Homo sapiens: one gene and its partners. The protein of the gene in region 4 purifies or fractionates together with the protein of the main gene of each other region. This does not show direct contact. Each region holds a gene or a part of one and is shown on either strand. Other genes may lie near its edges.

Region 1 (3,296 bases), on a different chromosome or scaffold from region 4:
GGGACCCTTGTTTTAGCCGAGCCCTTTGTGGAACGGGCCGCAGCAGCCACAGGGGAGTCACACAGTGATGTGCAGGTGAGGCCGGGGCAGAAGACAAGAGGCAAGCATTTCCCAGACCAGAAGGTGGAGACAGAAGCAGCAGAGGAGCAGTGGGGGCTGCCGGGGGCCACCGTCTCCCCATCCGCTAGTGGCGTGGCAGCTCCTACCTTCACTGCAGTTGGACCCGGTCCATCCGGCATCACAGCGGCAGCCGGCTGCCGAGACAAGACCGGGGAGGCCAGGTGAGGGCCTAGGGCAAGGCAGGGCTGGGCAGAGCCCCCTCCCCAGAACCCCCACTCACTCTCCGTGCACAGTCCGTGCTGGCTGCAGTTAGAGGGGCCACAGTCCAGCTCATCACAGCCGGGACCCCGCCAGAAGTGCCCGGTGCATTGGCAGTGCCCGTCCACGCAGGTCCCGTGGCCGTGGCAGTCAGGCGGCTGGCAGCGGGGTTCGTGCACACACACCACGGTGGACACTTGGCGGGGACAGCGCCACATGTTGTCCTGGCTGTAGAGGGATGTGATGTGTGAGGAGAGGACACCCCCAGACGGCCCCTCAACTCCCTCCAGGCTGCCCCCAACCACCCCTCTCTCCATTCTCACCTGTCTACCTACCTACCTACAAGATGGCGTCTATCTATTTTTGAGATGAGGTATTGCGATCCTTCCACCCGAGCCTCCTGAGCAGCTGTAACCGTAAGGTGTGCACCATCACGCCTGCCTAATTTTTTTTTATTTTTTCATAAAGACAGGGTCTATGTTGCCCACACTGGTCTTAAACTCCTGGGCCCAAGCGAACCTCCCACCTCGGCCTCCCAAAGCACTGGGATTCCAGGCGTGAGCCCCTGTGCCCAGCCCTCTCCAGTCTTTTATAGGTTCCTCCGCTCCCTACAATCCCTCCCAGCCCTGGGCCTTTCACATGTGGTGCCCTCTGCCCGGAAGGCTCTCCCACCCCCACCCAGCTACCACCTCCTTCAGATCTCAGTTCTTATTCTGTCATCCTCAGGGAGGTCTTTGCTGACCAACTGACCCTGCTCCTAGGCCTGGGTAGTACTGGCATCCTGGGGGAGGGACTGCAGCAATTTCTGCTCTCTTGAACCCCCGGGGCCTGGCACATAGCAGGCACTCAATATTGGCTGAATGAGACAGGCTGGGGCAGACCTGGACTTCAGCCCTCACGAAGGCGGCTCTCACGTGCTTACCAGTGATCTGACGGGTAACTGGCCAAGGTCCCGTTGAGCACAAAGGTGGCAGAGCCACCCCCATCCAGGTTGATGGCGTTGACCACGTCCTGTTTCAGCAGGAACTCCGCCATTTCCCACAGGTTGATGCTGCGGCACAAAGCGGCGCTGCTCAGGCTCAGCGCCCACCATCATTTCTCATTTAACTCCTTTTCCTTCCACAGTGCAGAGCATCACGCCCACAGTGCAGGCACATTTCTAAGTGGCCCCCGCCCCCAAGCATGTCTCATCCTAGCCCCCGGAAGCTGTGAACACGTGAGATCACACCCATGCCTGTGCTGTTACATGGCATAGGAATCCTTAAGGGAGGGGAAACGGCCCGGAGGATCTGGGTGCAGCCACTGGAATCACAGGAGTGTTCAACACAGAGAGCCTTCTCTGGCTGGTGACAGAATAGGAAGTGAGATTTGAAATACGAGGGGGATGAGAGGGTGGCCGGACAACTGGGGGAGAGGACACACATGGGAAGGAACCTGGGCAGCTTGAAGGAGCTGAGGCCCCAGATGGCGGCCAGCAGGGAAACCAAGACCTCAGTCACAACTGAGGAGGCGACGGGGATTCTTCCAACAACCTAAACAAGAGGATTCTTTCCAGATAAGAGAAGAGCCCTGCCTAACCAGCATCTTGGTTTTGTCCATGGGACACCCTGAACATAGAACATTCCAAGTTGACCAGCCTGGCCAACATGATGAAACCCTGTGTCTACTAAAAATACAAAAATTAGCCAGGTGCGGTGACTCACGCCTGTTAATTCCAGCACTTTGGAAGGCCGAGGTAGATGGATCACCTGAGGTCAGGAGTTCGAGACCAGCCTGGCCAACATGATGAAACCCCATCTCTACTAAAAATACAAAAATTAGCTGGGTGTGGTGGCGGGTGCCCGTAATCCCAGTTACCTGGGAGGCTAAGGTGGGAGGATCACCTGAACCTGAGAGGTAGAGGTTGCAGTGAGCTGAGATTGCACCACTGCACTCTGGCCTGGGCGACGGAGTAAGACCCTGTCTCAAAGAAACAAACAAACAAAAGAACATTCCCTGCTGAGTGTTGCTAAATTTGTGCTGGTTATGCAACCAGAGCAAACCAAAACACTCTCTTTACAGGGGCTAGAAATGAGGCTCAGGGAGGCCGAGGGACTTGTCTACGGCATAGGTGGGTAGACAAGTCATCGATGGCTAAGCTGGGATTGGAACCAAGATCTTCTCCCTGCTCACTTTGTGACCATTTCCTTGTATCCTATCTAGGGTTCAGGAAAGGTGAGGCCTAAAGCTGAAGATGATGAGTTCTTGGAATCGGCAAAGATCTCAGAACCCTCATCCTGTGGGAAGGTGAGGGGGCCCTGGGAGGGGGGACAGATAGGTGTCAACATCCCAGAAAGCAGGTAGAGTCAGAGGGTGGCTGTCATTGGGTCAACGTTCCTCCTAGCAGGACTGAGCCCCGGCCGGGGGGCCTCAGCTCCCAGGACTCACCCACGCTGCTCCGTTTGGCCGTCTGCATGAAAGAGCACCAGCTGCCCTTTCCGGTCGTGGCCAATGGCCGTCCTGGCTGATATCACATTCACAAATTTGCTAAAGGAACCTGAAGGAAAAGCAGCCTGGCTGATCACCGCCCCTTGGGAGGCCTCCTGCTTCTTGCCTAACTCCACTTCCCACTGGTCTGAGCTACCTGGTACCTCCCTGGGAAGCACAGCAGCCTCCTTGCTCGTCTCCCTGCCTCCCCTCTGCACATCCCAGTCTCCCCAGGGCAGCCGGGGGGTCTCTTCTTACAGGTAAACCAAGCTATGCCAGCCTCCAGGTGAAGACCCTCTAATGGTTTCCCCTGTTCTTAGAACAAAATCCAAAGAGCCAGCATGCCCTCCCCAGCCTCTTCCTCCTCCTGCCTCAGCTCCTGGGTGTCCCCTCACCACCCTGCAGCCACTTTGCACTTCCTGTTCCCTCTGGCTGGGAACTGTGCTTTTCTCTAGCTTGCTCCTTTGTCAGATCACCTCCTTAGTGAGGCCTTCCTTGACCGCCCACTCTTT
Region 2 (3,500 bases), on a different chromosome or scaffold from region 4:
TAAATTCAAAAAATTATCTTCTGTTAGAATGACTGAAATAGTTACATTTTAAAATATTAGGCACTAACATAAAGAAGGATGAGTTCATGTCCTTTGTAGGGACATGGATGAAGCTGGAAACCATCATTCTGAGCAAACTATCGCAAGGACAGAAAACCAAACACCGCATGTTTTCACTCATAGGTGGGAACTGAACAATGAGAACACTTGGACACAGGGTGGGGAACATCACACACCGGGGCCTGTAGTTGGGTGGGGGAGGAGGGAGGGATAGCATTAGGAGATATACCTAATGTAAATGACGAGTAACGGGTGCAGCACACCAACATGGCACATGTACACATATGTAACAAACCTGCATGTTGTGCACATGTACCATAGAACTTAAAGTATAAAAATAATTTTTAAAATGCAAAAATAAATAAATAAATAAAATATTAGGCACTAACAGCCTCATTTTTGGCACAAAGACAAAATTTTATAAGCTAAATAATTGTAACACTAACCTCTCTGAGGGGGAAAGGGTGCAGGTATGTGGAAAAAAAAAAACACAGTCCTATATTTGGAGCTTGTTATAACAATAGCCAAACACCCCAGAGAAACAGGAAACAGTATCTGCATACACACTGCTTCCTGGAGGGCTGGGATTCTAAAAACAGACACATCCTAATGTCAGCAGCACCTGGACTTGAAACTCCAACTGTGATGACAACTGCTGATACTGCATTAATGAAATACACAGACAAGGAATCAAGAGATGGAGTTGCTCTGATTAAGGTTCCAGAAAATAAGATATTGATCCCAGCACATTGGGTGGCCAAGGCAGGAGGATTGCTTGAGCCCAGGAGTTCGAGACCACGCTGGGGAACACAGAGAGACCTCATCTCTGATTATTTTTTAAAAAAGATAATGATGATGATGATGATGATGATGGTACTGAGAAAATCTCCTTTACACGGTTTTGCCTGCCTAGAAAAAATTTCTGGCCGGGTGCGGTGGCTCACGCCTGTAATCCTAACACTTTGGGAGGCCGAGGTGGATGGACTGTCTGAGCTCAGGGGAGGCCAAGGTGGATGGACTGTCTGAGCTCAGGAGTTTGAGACCAGCCTGGCTGACATGGTGAAACCTCATCTCTACTAAAATATAAAAAATTAGCCAGGCATGGTGGTGTGCTCATGTAGTCCCAGCTACTCAGGAAGCTGAGGCAAGAGAATTGCTTGAACCCAGGATGCGGAGGTTGCAGTAAGCCAAGACTGTGACACTGCACTCCAGCCTGGGCGACAGAGTGAGACTCTATCTCAAAAAGAAAAAAAAAGAAAAAAAAAAAAAGAAAAACTTTCCCTTTTATTTTTCCTTAAGAAAAACAGATGCTAGTATGGACCTGGCTGCCGCAGCAGGCTTCCTAAGGTCGCTGGCCCCATAACCGACAAGCACAGCTGCATTCCTAAATGTAATGTCCTCACCACTGTCTTGGTTAAGTAACCCTATCATCCATCATCAGACACAGCCACTTATGGAAGAGCAATGAAAGGAAGGCCTAGGTCCCAGAATCAGTACACTCAACTCCTATAGCCAATGCTGCAATCTTCTCTGACCCAGCTTAGCAATGAGCTCTTGGGATACAAACACAGAGGAGATACAAGGAGGCATCCCACAATCAAAGCCACACATGGCACAAGGCAGACTTTGTATGTCAAAAGGGTTCTTCTGTCAAAACATGGTAGTCATAAGGGTGGACCATCTCCAATCAAACCTCCCACAAGGTGCAACAGTGGGATTTCATTTGGGAGGTTTTCAAATTAAAAATAGAAACTAGGCCGGGTGCGGTGGCTCATACCTATAATCCGAGCAATTTGGGAGGGCAAGGCGGGTGGATCACCTGAGGTCAGGAGTTCGAGACCAGCCTGGCCAACATGGCAAAAACCCATCTCTACTAAAAATACAAAAATTAGCCAGGCATGGTGGTGGGCGCCTGTAATCCCAGCTACTCGGGAGGCTGAGGCAGGAGAATCGGTCGAACCCAAGAGGTAGAGGATGCAGTGAGCTAAGATCACGCCACTGCACTCCAGCCTGGGTGATGGAGAAAGACTCTGTCTCAAAAAAAAAAAAAAAAGAAAGAAAAAGAAACTACCACAGTATCAAAGTTTTCCTCAAATGCCGGGTGCAGTGGCTCAGGCTTGTAATCCCCAGCACTTTGGGAGGCTGAGGCGGCAGATCACCTGGAGTTCAAGACCAGCCTGACCAACATGGAGAAACCCCATCTCTACTAAAAATATAAAATTAGCCAGGTGTGGTGGTGCATGCCTGTAATCCCAGCTACTTGGGAGGCTGAGGCAGGAGAATCACTTGAACCCAGAAGGCGGAGGTTGCGGTGAGCCGAGATCATGCCATTGCACTCCATCCTGGGGACTCAAAAGCGAAACTCCGTCTCCAAAAAAAAAAAAAAAGTTTTCCTCAATTGAGCTACAGAAGAAGAGGATCAGTCTTCTGGATGGAGAGGACTGAATTCCACCTGCTCCAAATGTTCCCTCCACATCTTGTGATGTTCCTTTCAGAGAGGAGTATCAGCCAAAAGCTAAAGAAGCATTCTTTCAGCTCAGATGACAGGCTACTGGGACTTGATTTACGAAACAAAAGGGACAACAGAAGTTAGCTATGTCGGCCGGGTGCAGTAGCTCATGCCTGTAATCCCAACACTTTGGGAGGCCATGGCGGGAAGTTCGAGACCAGCCTGGCCAACATGGTTTCTACAAAAAAACACAAAATTAGACAGGCATAGTAGTGTGTGCCTGTAATCCCAGTTAATTGGGAGGCTGAGCCAGGAGAACTGCTTGAACCTGGGAGGCGGAGGTTGCAGTGAGCTGAGATCCCACCACTGCACTCCAGCCTGGGCAACAGAGCAAAATTCCATCTCAAAATCAATCCATCAGTCAATCAATCATTTATATTTCCTTTACATGTTCATGTTCTTTGCCCATTTTCCTACTGACCATTGGTTTTTTCTTTGTTTTTTTTTTGAGGGGGGGACGGAGTTTCCCTCTTGTGAAAGTGCTGGGGTTACAGGCATGAGCCACCGCTCCCAGCTTTCGATACATATTTTTAATAAGGCATATGACGTTATGTGTAACAAACTGACAATTTTTTTTTTTTTTTTGAGATGGAGTCTCGCTCTGTCGCCCAAGCTGGAGTGCAGTGGCGCGATCTCGGCTCACTGCAAGCTCCGCCTCCCAGGTTCATGCCATTCTCCTGGCTCAGCCTCCCAAGTAGCTGGGACTACAGGCAGCTGCCACCACGCCTGGCTAATTTTTTGTACTTTTTAGTAGAGACGGGGTTTCACCATGTTAGCCAGGATGGTCTCAATCTCCTCACCTCATGATTCGCCCGCCTCGGCCTCCCAAAGTGCTGGGATTACAGGCGTGAGCCACCGCGCCCGGCCACAAACTGACAATTAAACAAACATTTTTTTCTTTTTTTTTTTTTTGAGACAGAGTCTCACTCTG
Region 3 (3,500 bases), on a different chromosome or scaffold from region 4:
CTCGTGGGTTCTCAATGATGGCAAGGAATGAACAGACAAGGTCTCCCACGGACAGCCCCGAGGAATGGTGGTCTCTGCATGGTGGTCTCTGCAGGAAGCTTCATGGGCCGAGTGCATCCCCTGCTATGGGGCTGGGAAGGAGCTGGGCCATCCATTCCCTCCTTACCCAGGAAAGTGATTTCTAACCTGGGTGTGGGATGGCCCCAGCTGCCCTCAATGGTTTTGAGGCCTGGTGCTGTGAAAAATCCAAGCAAAATGGATTTCTATCCTGTGACAAGTCTTAGGGACAAAGCAGCGCTGGGGAGGACTGGCCCCTGAGAGAAAGGGATGAGAACGGGAGCCTGGGGAGGGTGGAAGGGAGGAGGCTACCTGCAGGAGTCACGGCCCCCTCCTGGATGCCTCCTACGTAGCCGGGTAGAAACTTATGGCAGAAGTCAGGGAGAGACGTGTACAGAAGCACCTGAAACACACAAGCAGCCTGATCACCCCCCGCCTGGAGGGCACCTGCAAAGGGGGACGCATAGCAGGAACATGAGAATCACAATCATAGTCTTTTTCTTCCTGAAGCACTTATGGCTCCTGGAAGCTCAAACTGCTGGGCTGTGGGTTTTGAAGGGGGTTCTGAGACAATAAACTCATCAACCAGGGAAGGTGCCAAGGCGTTCTCCCCCAGGGCTCCATTCGCCCCTCAGGAGAGCGCACAGGTCCCTCCCAGTCACCTTTTTAAAATGGAGAATCCCATAAAATTCAACTTTTTATATATATATATAAATCTATCTTTGAGATGAGGTCTTGTTCTACCACCCAGGCTGGAGTGTAGTGGTGCAATCATAGCTCACCGCAGCGTTGTCCTCCTGAGCTCAAGTGATCCTTCCACCTCAGCCTCCCAAGTAGCTGGGATTACAGGTGTGCACCACCACACCCGGCTAAAATTCACCCTTTTAAAGTGCACAATTCAGCGGCATTTAGCGCATTTACATGGTTGGTTGTACACCTATCACTGCTAATTCCAGAACTTTTCATCACCACAGAAGAAAATGTTGTTCCAATCTCCGGTCACTCTGAATTCCCTGTCCCTGCCGCCCCTGGCTGCCACTGAGCTTTCTGCCTCTGTGGATTTGCCTGTACTGGGTATTGCATATAAAGGGAACCACACAGTATGCAGCCTCTGTGACTGGCTTCTCTCGCTCAGCAGTGTCTTCAAGGGTCATCCGCCTACTGGCATCAGAGCTTCATTCCCTTCCGCTGCCAAATAGTGTCCCACAGTGGGCACAGTGTTCTGTTCTGTGGGTCCATTCATCTACTGATGGACAGGTGGGGGTTCCTGCTTTGTGGCTATTTGTGATTCACACTGCCCCTGTCATTTTTCACTCAAAGGGACCAAGAGATCTGAACTGAGAAGTATTCTGGAGCCCAGAAGCTTGGACCCTGGGGAGAAACAGCTAATCATGATCTGAGCCTTCCTCCCGCCCAGGAAGGAAAACCCAGGCCTGTCTCTTTCTAGCACCGTTTCCCTGGAAACCTTTTCCTGGGTTCAGGCAATCAGCACCACCCATGTGTGCACCAGGTTTACAACAACCCCTTCCTGGAACTCCCTCTGGACTGGGAGGCCAGTGGGGACACCATGGAGCTGAGGACGTCCTGGACCTGCCTCGACTGCCTGTGGGGAAACATGGCCCTCGCTTCTCTGAGTGGCATCTCATGACTGAGAGAGTCCCTTTGGGGACTGAGATGCTCCTTTCCAGACCTGGTGCAAGGCGTGACTCCTGCTGACAATGGGGCTTCCTCAGGACAGCACTGCCCTCCCACGGGGTTTTGCTCCTATCCTCAGCTTGTCCCTGCAGAGCTGGGCGTGCCCAGCAACTGCATGCAGGCATGCCGTGAAGGTGTATCAAACGCTGATGTGACAGGTGCCTCCTGCCTTACAGCTGAGGATGAATCTGAACATGTCAGAGTCCAGGGAATGCCCTGCTGGGTCCCGGGAACCCAGATGTCAACCTGAGCCAGGATCCATGTCCCAGACAAATGGAAGGACTACCCCAGCAGGAGGGCACGCTCCCCACCTGCTGTGTCCCAACCCCAGGGCAGGGGCTGCTGACCTGGAAGGTGACCCACAAGGTATAGAGCTGGGCGGCTTTCCTCGTTATAGGTGGAGTCTTGGCCCAGATGTCCGAGAGCCGAGCATGTCCGGTGACGATGTCCACCACAGGGCCAGTCAGGGCGCAGCTGTACTGGTCACAAGCCATGATGAAGTAGTAGACGATGAAGGGGGCGAACAGCAGTAGGAAGATGACGCTCGCCAGTGAAAACCAGTCCACCTCCCTGCGAGGACGGATGCAGGCAGTCACACTGGGGCCCATCTGCCCTGGGCCCCACCAGGACCCTAAGAGGCTCTGTGTGGGAGAACTGTTGCTCAAACCCACCAGTACCCCATGACAGAAGGCATTAGCTCCTAGCACGGGCCCTCCTTGCGGCCAGGGAAGCCACTCAACATGCCTGCTCTACTGTAGTTGATTAACTGGTGGCACTATCTGTGGCCCCCATGGAAGGCCCAGAGCTCAGAATATGAGCGGAGGTAGGTCTTTCACAACCACCAAGGCCAGTGGTTTCCCCAGTTCCAGGTCGGAGAGGATACTCACCCTGCACGAAGTCCCCATGGTTCTATGGCGAAATGGGAGCTGTGACAATAGGTCATACCCCCAGATGGTGGGAAGGCCCCAGCTGCCCTTTAAGCCTTTATCTTTTTTTCTAAGTTGTTGACTGACCATGATTTCTAGTTTCTTTTTATAATTCCTTACTTTATAAAGTGGAAAACTGTTTACCTTTCATTAGTCTTGACAAAAAAAAAAAAATCTTTTTTAAAAAGGTCCTTCATTCCTTTGGGTCCATACAATTCCAAAGGCTGGAAAGCTCTGAGACCACACTTTACTTTCTAGCTGGGAGAACAGGCAAGATCCTTACCAGGCACGGCCCCACTGCCCTTGAGATGCGGTTCTGTCATTGGTGACGCCATCTAGACTCTTGGCTTTGGGAATGTTGGGTTGCGATTTTGCAGCCATTGGGCCCTGCAAGAAAGAGAACCTTGCTTACATTATCCCTCAAATAACAGACACCACCTTTCCCTGTTGCATCCACCACTGCTCCTGGGCCTGGCAGGGCTGGCCTCCTGTGCACATCTTCCCGGTACCTTGTTCCTGACAGCAGATTCCAGGCAGGGAAGAGATCATCTTGTCTTAGACTCTCTTCCTTGGACCCTGCAATCACCTCCCACGTGACCTTGCTATGGCTGCTCTTGCTAGTCTCAGTTCATTCTCCAAACATGGCAGAATGCCCCCCCTCTTACAGCACAAGCTGGCTCCTGCCTCCCTCCTACACACCACTCTCCCCTATTCTCCTTTGGCTCCAGGAACACAGGGGTCTTCACTCATCCTTGAACACAGTTTAAATTGTCTGTGGCACTGACTTCCTCTGCTTAGAGCACGTTTGCAGGTGTCCTTGTT
Region 4 (4,057 bases):
AATATGTACAGCAACCAGTAAAAAAACTCTTCAAAAAGATACATTATAGATAAATCAAAATGGAATTATAAAAAATATTCCAGTAACACACAGGATGGCCAGGAAAGTGAAACAGAGGAACAAAATAAACAAACAAAAGCCCAGAAGAACAAAGAGAAAATAATAACATGGCAAACTTAAGCTCTGATATATAAATAATTACATTATGTAAGTCAGTTAAATAGAATAGATAGCTCCAGAATATACCCACACAAGTATAAGTGCTGATTTTTGATAAAGATACAAAAGTAATTCAATGTAGGAAAGATCATCTTTTCCATCACATGGTAGTAGAACAATTGAACACCCACAGGCAGAAGAAAAAAAAACACGCACATTGTAATCATACTTCTGAAAACCAAAGGCAAACAAAAAACTTTTAAAACAGCTAGAGAAAAATGACACATTACCTATAGGGAAAACAATTTAAATGATGGCTGATTTCTCACTGGAAACCATGGAGGGGAGGAGTGTCATGACACTTTTCAAGTGTCGAAAGCAAAAAAAAACTGTCAACCATATTACCTGATATGGTTCTCAATGAATATAGACAATATATTTAGGTGAATCTCAACCTAAACTTCACACCTTACATTAAAACAGGATCATACATTTAAATGTAAAACATAAAACTATAAAACTTTCAGGAGAAAACCTTTGGACCCTAGTGTGGGTAGAAAAAAAACTGATAAGTTGAATTTCATCAAAATTAAAATTTTTGCTCTGCCAAAGACCCCGTTAAGAAGATGAAAAGACAGGCTACAGACCAAGAGAAAATATTTGTAAACCACATATCTGACAAATGACTCTTATACTTGGAACATATAAGGAATTGTCAAAGCTCAACAGTAAAAAAAATAAAGAATCTGATTATAAAATGGACAAAAGACATAAATAGACATTTCACCAAGGAGGATATGGATATATAGATGGCAAATAAGCACATGAAAAGATGTTCAACATTATTAGGCTTTAGGGAAATGCAAATTAAAGCCACAATGAGGTATCACTACAGCACCTATTAAAACAGCTAAAATATAAAATGGGAATATACCAAATGCTGATGAAGATGGGGAGCAAATAGATCTCTCATAGATTGCTGGTGGCAAGGTAAAATGCTCTATTCACTCTGAAAATAATTTAGCAATTACTCAATCTCACATGTCTGCGGCGTGACCCCTCCTGCTTCTTTAAATATCAGCTGGGGAAGAGGTCTGAGTAATACCTAAGAGGGAAGTGGCTTCATTTCAGTGGCTGACTTCCAGAGAGCAATATGGCTGGTTCCCCAACATGCCTCACCCTCATCTATATCCTTTGGCAGCTCACAGGTGAGTCCGGCCGGATTCTCTTCCACTCTCCTGTCTACCCCATCCTGAATAGTTCCAGGTTTCTTGTTCCACTCTGGGCCTCTGGCTCAACTCGGGAGGCTCTGTGTTCTCATCTAACATTTGCTTTTTATCAATCTCTGATCTCTGATTCTCAGGTCAGGAAGAGACTAGAGAGAGGGGGAAAAATGGCTCTGGGAACTGACTCCCCTGTTGACTGTCCCAGGGATGAAGGAGCTGAAAGAAGTGGTGCTGGGTATCAGAGACCATTTTTCTAATCCAGGTTCTGCCATGAGTTAGATAAGGAATGTTAAAGTTTTCCTGGGCCTCAGAAACTTTATCTTCTAGCCTTCTCTCCTTTTGAGGGCAACTTTAAGAACAAGATGATACTATACAGGTATGTATTTATTTACTTATAAATGTATTTATAAAATTGGTTATGCATAACAGTAATATAAATGGAAAGAATCACTTGAATTTTCTTTCCTTACTCAAGCAATGTAATCAGTCTCTACTTAGAGAACCAACTCATACCATAGGCACTTTATGTTTAATCCCATGGAGGACAGAGGACAGTTCTCCACCTGTCACTGGTATTCTAGTCTTTGAAGATTTTTCTATCCTAAGGGCTCTCAGAAAGGATCAGGAGCCCTATAAGTGAGAAATATCTCTTCTGTCATCAATCTCATGGAGTACTACCATGAGGTCCCCCTATAAGGACTTCACATAACTGCTTCATTATGTGTATCTGAGCCTGCCTGGAGTGATCTGCCCAAGACCACGCAGGCAGCTGGTGCCCCCAATATTTTCCCCTGCATCGCTAAGTGGTCAGCATCAGCAGACTCTTACCCACTTTGAATTCATCAGAAGTTTGTATTTTTGAGAGGTACCTGGGTCTAACCAGGTGGTTCTGGAATAGGCCCTCACTTTAAAAAAAAAAAACAAAAAAAAAACTCCCTGAACGGAAATGATGAGCAGAAATAGAACTTGAGGGAGATAAGGTGGAGGGGTTGGGGAAAATTATAGAGACTTTGAAAGCTACAGGTGTCCATCTGAAATCAGTCAGCGAAAGAGCACAAGTATGAAAAACTGCCATGCAGGTCCCCCTCTGCCCTCCTCCAGAGGCAGCCTGTGTAGTGTACCTCCTGAGGCTGAAAGGAGACAGAGATTGTCCTGGAACTTCCAGTGGGCAGGGCAGTGGAACAAATCCTGGCACTGGACAAGCGCATCCTTGGTTTGACTTAGTAGCTGTATTATTGTAGGCAAATTACTCTTCCCTTCTGAGCCTTGCTCTTCTCAGGTGTGTAACAGAGAATGAAATCTAAGTTGCAGAATTATTGTGACATTTTAAATGACATATCAAATGCAAAATAATTATTAAAATAATCACCATTTATTAAGTTACTACATCGCAGGTGTTTTTCATACCACCTCCTCATGAGTCTGTAAGACAGATATCATTATCCCTGTTTTACAGTTGAGGAAACTTAGGCTCAGCAGAGAGATCACGCTTCTTGGGCAAGATAACACAGCATTTATAAGGTAGCCAGAGATTGAGTTTAGAAAGCTAGAAAGCTAGTGCTCTTTTAATCATAACAAGCCGTCTATCACTGGACCTGGCACCAAAGAGATGCTCACTACATGTGCATTTGAGCTGAATCTTCCTCAGGGAGTACCAGTTGGGGTTTCTTCCCTCTCCAGGTACATAAATCTGAGGTAGAAACTGGAAAGGCCCGAGAAGAACGGGTAGCTCTGTTTCTGGGATATGGGTGTACCAACAGGGGGCCACCCTGGCTAAACTCAGAGGGTCCATGAAGCAGTTCTCATGGCCTCAGTATTCTCATCTGAAAAATGGGCACAGTAATCTGCCAATGATTTGATGATACAGTAGTGTCAAGGAGACAATCAATAAAAAGAAAACAAAAAAGTGGGTGAGGGGAATTGGGAGAGTGTTGAAAAGAACCAGAAGAAACAAGGAAGAGGGGGCAGGAGATGAGTGAGGAGCAGAGTGGTGAGCAACCTAAATGTGAATGTGGTCGGTTAGGGCTAGAGTGATGGGAAAGGTGTGTGGTGAAGCGGGAAACTTTCAAGCCTCTGTCTGTGGCTGCCTTGTGTGGCATTGAATTACACTGCTCTTTCGTGAGTACATTCGTTAAGGGGGACTTGAGTAAAGTGCAATAGATTTCAAACCACTTTGGGTTTTTTTTGCCTTTTTTTTTAAATCCATGGTTTCCTTTTATGGAATGAAATTTTACACAGAAAAAAACAAATAAATGACTCCAATGTATAGAGTTGAAGCCTAACGGAAGCAAGTCCCATAGCCTCCTATCCTACGCTCACCCCTTAAACCTCCTCCTGAGCTCCCAAGAAATACACTGAGGCACTGCCACAGCCTCCAAAGGTGGCGCCATGGGGCACAGTCTGTGAAATCCTGCCTTAGGAGCCTTGGCTCCTAATCCTGGCCTTCCACTGGTTTGGGAAACATCACCATAACCTTCTGAATATCAGCCTTCTTATCTGTGAAATGGGATTGGACTAAGTAATCCCTAAGACTCCTCCAAGCTCTGAGATGCTCTGGTTCATGGTTTTCATGAGGAGAGTGCCACAACACACTGCTACATTTGGACAGAGGCACCAAGTGTTCAGAGAAGTGCTTGGGGACGGGGTTGGCAAGCAGGAGGCAGGCTTTTCCA
Region 5 (2,531 bases), on a different chromosome or scaffold from region 4:
TCCTGACCTCAGGTGATCCATCCACCTCGGCCTCCCAAAATGCTGGGATTACAGTCATGAGCCACCACGCCCGGCCTGGAGTCTGTTCTTAATCACTGTTAGTTTTGCTCAAAAAATTTTTTATTTTACATGAAGGAGAGGGAAAGTGTGCTGAATTCTCCAAAATATTGGGAAATTTTCAAGTATGAATGCGACTTAATAATAACAATGAGGCTGGGTGCAGTGGCTCATGCCTGTAATCCCAGAACTTTGGGAGGCCCAGGCAGGCAGATCACCTGAGGTCAGGAGTTCGAGACCAGCCTGGCCAACATGGTGAAATCCCATCTCTACTAAAAATACAAAAATTAGCCAGGCATGGTGGCAGGTGCCTGTAATCCCAGCCACTCGGGAGGCTGAGACAGGAGAATCGCTTGAACCCAGGAGGCGCAGGTTGCAGTGAGCCGAGATCACACCACTGGACTCTAGCCTGGGCAACAAAGAGTGAAACTCCGTTGTTGTTGTTTTTTAATTTTTTTTTTTTTTTTTTTTTGAGACGGAGTCTTGCTTTGTCACCAGGCTGGAGTGCAGTGGCGCAATCTCGGCTCACCACAACCTCTGCCTCCCAGGTTCAAGCGATTCCCCTGCCTCAGCCTCCCAAGCAGCTGGGACTACAGGCGTGCGCCACCATGCCCGGGTAATTTTTTGTATTTTAGTAGAGACGGGGTTTCACCATGTTGGCCAGGATGGTCTCGATCTCCTGACCTCGTGATCCACTGTGCCTGGCGAAACTCAGTTGCAAAACAAATTTATAATAACAATGAGATATAAATGATTTAGGCTCCTTTTCTTTATGGAATCTTCTTCCTCTGGGACTGACACTAGACTAAGTTTATCCACAGCCCCGCCTTTCTTCCTTTTAACAACTGCTGCAGAGGCAATGCAGGGTCAGGGATGTGTGGGACAGGCAGACCTGGGTTCAAATCCTGACTCTCCCTTCTCATGGAGCAGTTCCCAGGACCATCACTCGCATGTGTGCACATGCATGCGTTCACACATGCACGCACATATGCATGCGTGCACACACACATGCACACACATATGCATAGGTACACACATACGCACTCACGCATGCACACACACACAAATGCACACGAACCCACGTGTGGCGCAGCGCACCTGCATGGCAGTCCTGCCTAGAGGCCCTGGTGGCCCCTCCTCCGGCCGGTGCTTGCCGTGATGCGGGAGCTCGGTGTTGTCGCGGTAGTCGCGGCCCTTGGAGTGCTGGAGGTGCAGCACCGCCGGGCTCTTGACTGGCAGCGGCGGCCGCGGCGTCGGGGTGGGCGGGGTCTGCTGGTTGATTTCCGATCTGGAAGGCTTGATGGGCCTCTTGGCCGGCACCGGGGCCTGGGAGCTGACCGGGGTCTTGGGCTTCCCTTGGCTCTTGTCCCCGCCGGCCGCCCTGCCCTCGGCAGAGGATGAGCACGTGAAGGAGCGCAGCCGGGGCGCGGGCACCTGCTTGCCGGGCCCCTCGCCGCGATCAGCCTCCTGGGCTTTGGTGAGCACGATGCTGGGCGACAAGATGCCGGGTTCCGGGCAGGGCGGGGGTTCCTTCCGCGGCATTTTGGGGGATTCCTGGTCCTTCCTGGGAGCAGGCTTAGGGAAGGAACTCAGGGACCCATACAGGGGGTTCTCAAACATCTCGGGCTTCGTCAGCGGCAGGTCCTCCTGAGGCAGCGTGTCCCCTGCGTTCTTCCCCAGGTCACTGGGCCTAGAGCCAGGGACAGAGCAGGGAAGACACATGTCCAGGGGAGAAGACATGGGAGCATGGCTGCTTAATGGCTCTGGGTCTTTCTTTGGGGTGATACAAATGTTTCTGAACTAGATAGAGACATGTAACATTGCAAATTTACTGAATGGCACCAAATTGTTTTGTCTTGTTTTGTTTTAGAGACAGAGTCTCGCTCTGTCACCCAGGCTGGAGTGCAGTGGTGCGGTCATGGCTCACTGCTGCCTCAACCTCTTGGGCTCAAGCAGTCCTTCCCCTCAGCCTCCCAAGTAGCTGAGACTACTTGGGAGTAGCTGGGAGTAGCTAGGAGTAGCTGGACATTGCTGGGAGTAGCAATGCCTCCAGGCCTGGCTAATTTTTTAGTTTTGTTTTATTCTGTAGAGATGGGGAGTCTCACTATATTGCCCAGGCTGGTCTTGAACTCTTCGCTTCAAGCAGTCCTCTCACTTTGGCCTCCCAAAGTGCTGGGATTATGGGCATAAGCCACTGTGCCCAGCCTAGCAAACTGTTCATTTTGAAATGGTTAATTTTATGTTAAGTGAATTTCACCTCAAGTGAAAAAAAGGAAGAGGAAACAGTACTGTGTTCATCATACGTTGTCCTCAAAGACAGCCTCAGTTCTGGCCTGGGACCTTTTCCACTATAAAACCTGTTCACATCAGAGCATCTGTGAGCAAGGGGCATGGCACTGGAGGATTTGTGGGAGAAATGAAGTGAGAACTTACATGGCACCTCAGTATCAACCCCTCATCCTCATCAGATGAGC
Region 6 (3,500 bases), on a different chromosome or scaffold from region 4:
CAACTATCAAATGCTATGTCAGCTAAAGGATAAGAAAAAACTCCTTTAAGCATCAAGAAAAAAGATGAAGACTTGCAACAAATGACTTTATTAGTCATCATTTTCTTAACTCAGGTTAAAAAGTTACGCAGACCCTTGAAACAAACAGACATTAAATTTCAGAAAATAGGTTTAAGTGGCTCTTAAATTCTTTATTTCTACAAGAAAGAATTTGATTTTATGAGCTTAATGGAAGGTACTTACCTGCTTTCCATCTGTAATTCTCAATATTTAACTCATTTCAAGCCCTGCCCCTTTTCAAACTGTTTAATCCTATTATTTTCTGTTAGAGCCTGTAATTTCCAAAACACCAGCATTTAGATATCTTCAGAAGCTATTTTCACACAGTATTCCTAGAGATAAAATGATGAAAAAAATCAAAGTATCCCAGGAAGGCACCACAATGCACATTCCTGATTGTAAAACTGTTTCAAATTTTTTTCTAAAACCTTACACAGCAGCTTGAATATAACCACTATTCAGTGAATGTTTGCTGAACTGAGAATGTTTTTGCTAAACTCTATTTTGCTTTTTGACACATGAGAGAAGGCACTGTCTTTATACCAAAAAGAATCCACATTTCAGCACTGTGCATCAGAAATGCTTTGTCAAGCATATTTTCTCAATTCTCTCCAGAAGACTCCTACTTAAAAGTTGGCTGCATATTACAGTATATTTAACTGGGTGCTCTGAATTGCTCACTATACTTACAGAGGGAATGCACTTGTCGCCTCTCTGCAGTGATTACACAGAGATAAAAATGAATTAATTGAAATACATTTATTTAGCATGCAAAAACCAATTACTAACTCAAATTATGGATATTAAAACATCCACAGGAAACAAAATCCTAGAAGTGAATTATTACCTAAGAATTACCTTTAGGCTGGGTGCAGTGGCTCATGCCTGTAGTCCCAACACTGTGGTAGGGTGAGGAGGGTGGATCACCTGAGGTCAGGGGTTTGAGACCGGCCTGGCCAACATGGTGAAACCCCATCTCTACTAAAAATACAAAAATTAGCCGGGCATGGTGGCACATGCCTGTAATCTTAGCTCCTTGAGAGACTGAGGCAGGAGAATCCCTTGGACCCAGGAGGCGGAGGATGCAGTGAACCAAGATCGCACACTGCACTCCAGCCTGGGTGACAGAATGAGACTCCGTCTCAAAAAAAAAAAAATTACCTTTAAAAACTCTAAAATCTAAATTATAATTAAAGACTTTAATGTAAACAGTATAAAATAAGTCTTTTTCATTTCTTATCTTTGCCTGCCCTCTAATTATAGTTTACAAAATCAAATAACTGTCACATCATAACCCCAATTCAAAAAATGAAGTTCATTTTCTCATTTCTTCTAAAAGTAGTATCCAGCCTTCCCAGTTCCACAAGTAGACAATGTCCTTCTTAGACAAACAGTTCCTTTTTCTTTTACATTTAATATATTTCTTTATTGATTATATCATATCTGAAATTTCAATCACTTAGTTCTTAAAAGACATTTTAAGTTTTTTCTCATATTTCAATGCTTATTAAATGGGGAACACTGATAGTACTATTTACAGAGTGCAGAAAACTTTGAAAAATATTATTCTCAAACAATTCCTACTCACATCTCAGATTAACAACAATAGAAGATTCTTTGTGGAATTAATATTTTTACAATTTTAAGAAAAGTTTAGCAATAACTTAAGAAAGGTTTAGCAATAAAAAACCCTAATTAAAAGTTGAATATTAAGTAACATTTTTTAATTAAACAAACTCCCAATTTCAACAGTTATATAATTGAAGTCAATACCAAAATAATTTTTTAATTATGACTATAGATCTTTAGACATTATTTTGGGAAGAAAGTATCGGAAAATGAGAACATATGTTCAAATCCAGTGCTAGTTTCTTCAATACCAAGGAGGGTAATTACCAATCTTTTCACTGTAACAATTTAACATGTTTAATTTTACAAATCCAGATTCTCATAACTTATATTAATTTTTTAAAATTAAATTCAAATCACTTAAAACTAACTATAAGCATTTTTACAAGAATTTCACCACACCCTTTGAGCTTACATGGCTGAATCCCAGGGAGCTTGAAAGCTGAGGCATTTTCTGATTACTTTGGCTTTCCATAAAGAATAAGCATTATACCAACAGACAATTCCACAGCTCACAAAAACACTGGAGTCAGGAAATTTATATGAAATGACAGCTTAGTATGCTATTGCACATAATTACAGGAAAGTTTTCATTCATGCGTACATTCATTCAATAAACATTTACTGAGACACCTGCCTTTTATCAGCCACTGCCCTTGAGAAGTTCATTATCTAAAGAACAATGATAAGTCATGTAATTACACATATTTTAGTATAACATGTAAGGTGATACAATGTGACATATACAAATTCCTCTGACCTACTCATTCTGATATATATATAACCTAGAACCCTGCTAACTTAAGTGTGGTCCATAAACCACCAGAATTGGCAACCCCCAGCAGCTAGTCAGAAACAGAGACTCTCAAGTTCCACCTCAAAATATATTGAATCACAATCACAGTTACCTGGAGAGCATTTTAACAAGCTCCCCAGATAATTCCAATGTACGTTTAAATTTTGAGAAGCAGTGAACTAGAACATAACTGAAAATCAGCAAAAACAATGTCATAGAGTCCACATACTTTTAAGATCTTCAAGGTCCATCCTGAGCCTTTTTAAGAATGTATATACAATTTCAACAAGTTCAATGGCTTAGTTTCACAGACTAGGAACAAATTGAGATACCACTGACAACAAAAAAAGAAAATAGGAAAAACTTATAAAAAGCAATCTCAAAAAGGGATAGCTGTGTCACTTAACATAGCAACAATTTGTCTAGATAGGCCCTAAAAGTCTCACCACATTACAATAACACAAAAGTAATCGATGTTCTCAAACATGCCTCCTGTATCTAGAACATAAATTCCCTGAGGACAGAGACCTAGTTCTATCCTTAAATTACACTTACATTTGTAAACTGAATGACTCAAGTCATTAAGATGAGTTTGAGCTAGGCAGTAAGATATATGATACATTTTAGAAAAAATTCCATCTGACAGAGTTAAAATAAAAACATTTACTCCAAAAAGAAAGAGAGATAAAGAAAGAGAGGGAGGGAGGGGGAGGGGAGAGAAAGACAGAGTAGAACACCCGGATGGATGGGGCACACCTGTAGTCCCCAGCTACTCAGGAGTATGAGGCCAGCCTGGGCAACATGGCGAGACCTCGTTTCTTCAACAAAACAAAACAAAACAAGAGTAAAGCATCCCCATTCTATAACCCATTCACCAAGCACTCTAAGAACAGAGCCTTTACTGAACCTCTGGCTCCCAATCCCAAAGTCTTCCTATTCAAATCCTCTTCTGGGGGGCTGATGAGAGTGCCAGGATAAAAAGGAGAAAGATTAGAAGAGGATGGAGGGAAAACAG
Region 7 (3,500 bases), on a different chromosome or scaffold from region 4:
TAGCTAGCTTGGAAAGTTTTAAAAAGCGCCAGTGTTCTTATGGCACTACATTCTCCTGCACGTGTGCGTGTGTTCACGCACATTCGCAAACGCAATACAATGTAGAACTGTCCAGTGTTTGTTTTGTTTTAAAAAGTCATCAATTCAACCTAAATTCAAGAATTACACTTTAATAGTGGCATTTTGCCAATACAGAAATGACGTATCTTGGATCAAATCATTTTAAGGAAAGTTATTCTATATTACTTGAATAAGGGAAAGAAAATACACAAGACAAGAATCCACAATAATAGCAGTTACATTAAATGTTGAAATAAAAATTACTTTTTGTTTACATCTGGAATTGAGATGGCCCATCTTCATTGTTTCTCCAGAGTACTAAGAGGGGGAAAAAAGTCACCTAAAAACATGGGAAGTTTTTTAAGGCTAGCTATACACAAACGTCACATTGGCATTTTTCTTCAGTTTTCATCTCAACTATTAGTACTAAATAGTTTAAAAATCAAACATAATTTACTAATAATGAACAACTGCACACTTCATACTATGACCGTTTGATAACTGGTCATGTAAAACTATCACCAAATGCTGATTTGTCTTCTATATATAAATAGTAAAAATAAAACAAAAAGGTCTTCTTTCCTAGTTAACCTTCTTGAAGGTTGTTTTAACCCAATATAAAATTAAGCAAAATAATAGTATAATTTAAAAAAAAATTTATGTGAAGAAGGGCAGCAATACTAACATTTTCTGAACTATGGGTTTTCAATATTTAAAAGGCTCTTGGTTAAATACTAAAACCCGGATGCTACCCAAGCAAATATTATGCTGGAAAATGCTTTCCCTATGAAAATACTTATCTCATTGAAAACAACACGATAAAGTACAATTGAAAAACTAGGGGAGAATTCTTAAGTAAGACAATATAAATTACCTGCCAGTAAAATGGAGGGCAATTTTTTGGCCATTCATATTGTTTGTTTACAAAACATTGATAAGATTCATTTAAAATTCTGTAGGATTAAGAATTTTTAACCTTTTGAAGTATCTGCCTAGGATCTCTTGCTGTTAAAACAGATATGTTCCAATGACTTTATACCAAGATCCACAAATTCTTTGAAAAATTAAAAAACAAAACAAAACAAAACAAAAAACCCAAAATTAATATAATCAAGTTGGCCAGGCGTGGGGGCTCACACCTATAATCCCAGCACTTTGGGAGCCCAAGGAGGACGGATCACCTGCAGTCAGGAGTTCCGAGACCAGCCTGGCCAACATGGTGAAACCCTATCTCTACTAAAATAACTAAAATAAGCCAGGTGTGGTGGCACGCACCTGTAGTACCAGCTACTTGGGAGGCTGAGGCAGGAGAATCGCTTGAACCTGGGAGGCAGAGGGTGCAGTGAACCAGGATCGTGCCACTGCACTCCAGCCTGGGCAACAGAGTAAGACTCTGTCTCGGGGGCAAAAAAAAAAAAAAAAAAAAAAAAAAAAAAATATATATATATATATATATATATATATATATATATATATATATATATATATATATATAGTTATATAGTTATATAGTTATATGCTCAATTCAATAATAATGTTTTTCTCCCAAAGAGAGCAATTTAGAAATACACTATGACAGGCAGCATTATATTTTAAAATCCTAATTTTTTATAGTAGGACTAAATTTCTGAGTAAAGGTAGGGCTAACAAAGACCTTATTTCAAATGAGAGAAAAGGCTGCTCTAAAGTGCCAAAGAGTATAACACTGAATCCTATGTCAAGCATTATTTCTGATACTGATTTTTTTTTTTTTTTCCAATTTTGCCTAGGTTGGCCTCGAACGCATAGCCTCGCCTCCTTGTGTGCCAGGACAACCGGCCGGAGCCACCGCAGCTCCCGATACCGATGTTTTTAAAAATATGTTTTAAAGTAATTGCTTACCACTTAGGGAAAAAATTGTTGAAGTATAAAACAGCCAGAACACATTGCTCTTTATTTTGGTAGCTTATGTTTGGCTGACTTGCATATGTTAAAAAATTCTCAGATTTTAGTCTATGGATTTTAATACTATATGAAAATTCTTTTATAGTTTCTGAAGACCTATGTTATACGCTTTCTATGAGAACTTCTAAATTATCGTTCAAAAACAAACACTACCCTTACGATATACCTTTAGCATTAAACATTTAGATCATGTACCCAACCATTCTATTTTTCTAAACTTCTAACCTGAAGCTTTGGTTATGAGGGAAAACAAAGTTTGTAAGGGTTCAGTTCTCTGAGATTTTTCAGAATGTTTCCAACGAAATACATTCCTATGTTAAAAGGCCAGCTCAGCCAAGCTTCCTTCTGGACAAATAATGAATTGGTTTTATTTGAAGTTTTATTCTGTAAACAAAAAGCTTTGGAAACTTTGGGATTTCCTGATGAAAAGCTAGGAGAAATGCACACCTAGTCCTCAGCCAACGAGGCACTAACCAGCGAGACCAGATGTTCTAACCAGTCTTCTCTAATGCTGTCAATCTAAGACCACAACCACATCTATACTTCACAAGCATCTCAGAAGTCCTAAATCCAGTAAGATGCAGTACAGTTGGTGATGTCACTCTGAAAGATTTATGACCTTGCAGGACTTTCGGCCACTGCTACAAAAAATAAACAGATAGTTGTGTGTGGAAAAGAGAGGATGTGGGTGTGGGGTGGGGGCGGGCGGGGGGGCTGACTCATGAAAATCTTCATTTGGACTTTTTTTCTCTAAGTATAGACATGCCCCACTGAAACCCAACTCCCAATGCTGATCACACTAGGAATATTAAATTATCAAAATTAAAAATAATTTCCTCACCTAGCACAAGATACTATACAATATTACAAACACAGACACATGAAAAAAATCAGGCAGTAGGAAATGTACAACAGCTTTGGTGTTATACAAAATAACTTCCACAAACAACTAACAGTGAAGCATAAAGTTCATGTTTTCTTACCACAGACACTCCACTGCTGATTTCTACTTGTTTCCTTTAACGTTCTTGGTAAGGTCTGAATAGCCAAGAAAGAAAGAATGTACAGTTCCCTTAGTGAGAGCTGCTAGGACATCATGAACTGCGTTCCACAAGGCGTCACTGAAAAGTCTTGCCTGCGCACTACTGCTCTGTGGCACGTTTCCTGTCGAGATCACAGCAGGTCCAAAATAAAGTGACAACTAGATTTAATAAATTAATATACATTTTGTTTAAAGATGTACAATGCACATTCTGTTTAATCCAAGGTTTTAGGGTATCAAGGAACTTGTATTTACACATATACAAATCTCAGACAGCAGTAATGTCAGAAGATCCAGGGAGAACAGCAGAATCTTACACCGCTGCTCTCTGAATGCTGAGAACACAAGTCAAATACATTTAACTTAAAAACAACGCTGAGAGATCACTGGGAAAAATCTCCAAAGAGAGAAGTCCACAAAAAAGGACATGTAAAGGGGAAGGTCAAGTTGTTGA

What was found.
Region 1: the proteins of SLAMF7 (region 4) and NAGPA purify together in Homo sapiens (affinity purification with mass spectrometry; 3 studies listed by BioGRID and IntAct, with this or other methods). This does not show direct contact.
Region 2: the proteins of SLAMF7 (region 4) and DAGLB purify together in Homo sapiens (affinity purification with mass spectrometry, with the first as the bait; one large-scale study listed by BioGRID). This does not show direct contact.
Region 3: the proteins of SLAMF7 (region 4) and DHCR7 purify together in Homo sapiens (affinity purification with mass spectrometry, with the first as the bait; one large-scale study listed by BioGRID). This does not show direct contact.
Region 5: the proteins of SLAMF7 (region 4) and INPP5D purify together in Homo sapiens (affinity purification with western blotting; one study listed by BioGRID). This does not show direct contact.
Region 6: the proteins of SLAMF7 (region 4) and TBC1D23 purify together in Homo sapiens (affinity purification with mass spectrometry; 3 studies listed by BioGRID and IntAct, with this or other methods). This does not show direct contact.
Region 7: the proteins of SLAMF7 (region 4) and MARCHF6 purify together in Homo sapiens (affinity purification with western blotting, with the first as the bait; one study listed by BioGRID). This does not show direct contact.

The regions. Positions count from the first base shown.
Region 1 is NC_000016.10:5,027,640-5,030,935, forward strand, and holds part of NAGPA (N-acetylglucosamine-1-phosphodiester alpha-N-acetylglucosaminidase precursor), read right to left. Parts: intron 2,855-3,296; coding exon 2,746-2,854; intron 1,370-2,745; coding exon 1,241-1,369; intron 547-1,240; coding exon 341-546; intron 255-340; coding exon 207-254; intron 1-206. UniProt on the Homo sapiens protein: Catalyzes the second step in the formation of the mannose 6-phosphate targeting signal on lysosomal enzyme oligosaccharides by removing GlcNAc residues from GlcNAc-alpha-P-mannose moieties, which are formed in the first step.
Region 2 is NC_000007.14:6,437,955-6,441,454, forward strand, and holds part of DAGLB (diacylglycerol lipase-beta), read right to left. Parts: intron 1-3,500.
Region 3 is NC_000011.10:71,441,894-71,445,393, forward strand, and holds part of DHCR7 (7-dehydrocholesterol reductase), read right to left. Parts: intron 3,066-3,500; 5' UTR 3,060-3,065; coding exon 2,962-3,059; intron 2,394-2,961; exon of another isoform or gene 2,323-2,393; coding exon 2,100-2,322; coding exon of another isoform or gene 2,064-2,099; intron 461-2,063; coding exon 370-460; intron 1-369. UniProt on the Homo sapiens protein: Oxidoreductase that catalyzes the last step of the cholesterol synthesis pathway, which transforms cholesta-5,7-dien-3beta-ol (7-dehydrocholesterol,7-DHC) into cholesterol by reducing the C7-C8 double bond of its sterol core.
Region 4 is NC_000001.11:160,737,990-160,742,046, forward strand, and holds the start of SLAMF7 (SLAM family member 7 isoform a precursor), read left to right. Parts: upstream 1-1,257; 5' UTR 1,258-1,312; coding exon 1,313-1,367; intron 1,368-4,057. UniProt on the Homo sapiens protein: Self-ligand receptor of the signaling lymphocytic activation molecule (SLAM) family.
Region 5 is NC_000002.12:233,203,342-233,205,872, reverse strand, and holds part of INPP5D (phosphatidylinositol 3,4,5-trisphosphate 5-phosphatase 1), read right to left. Parts: intron 1,748-2,531; coding exon 1,156-1,747; intron 1-1,155. UniProt on the Homo sapiens protein: Phosphatidylinositol (PtdIns) phosphatase that specifically hydrolyzes the 5-phosphate of phosphatidylinositol-3,4,5-trisphosphate (PtdIns(3,4,5)P3) to produce PtdIns(3,4)P2, thereby negatively regulating the PI3K (phosphoinositide 3-kinase) pathways.
Region 6 is NC_000003.12:100,263,992-100,267,491, reverse strand, and holds part of TBC1D23 (TBC1 domain family member 23), read right to left. Parts: intron 1-3,500. UniProt on the Homo sapiens protein: Putative Rab GTPase-activating protein which plays a role in vesicular trafficking. Involved in endosome-to-Golgi trafficking.
Region 7 is NC_000005.10:10,433,695-10,437,194, reverse strand, and holds part of MARCHF6 (E3 ubiquitin-protein ligase MARCHF6), read right to left. Parts: 3' UTR 1-3,500. UniProt on the Homo sapiens protein: Endoplasmic reticulum membrane-associated E3 ubiquitin ligase that plays a critical role in mitigating endoplasmic reticulum stress, the regulation of cholesterol and lipid homeostasis, and ferroptosis.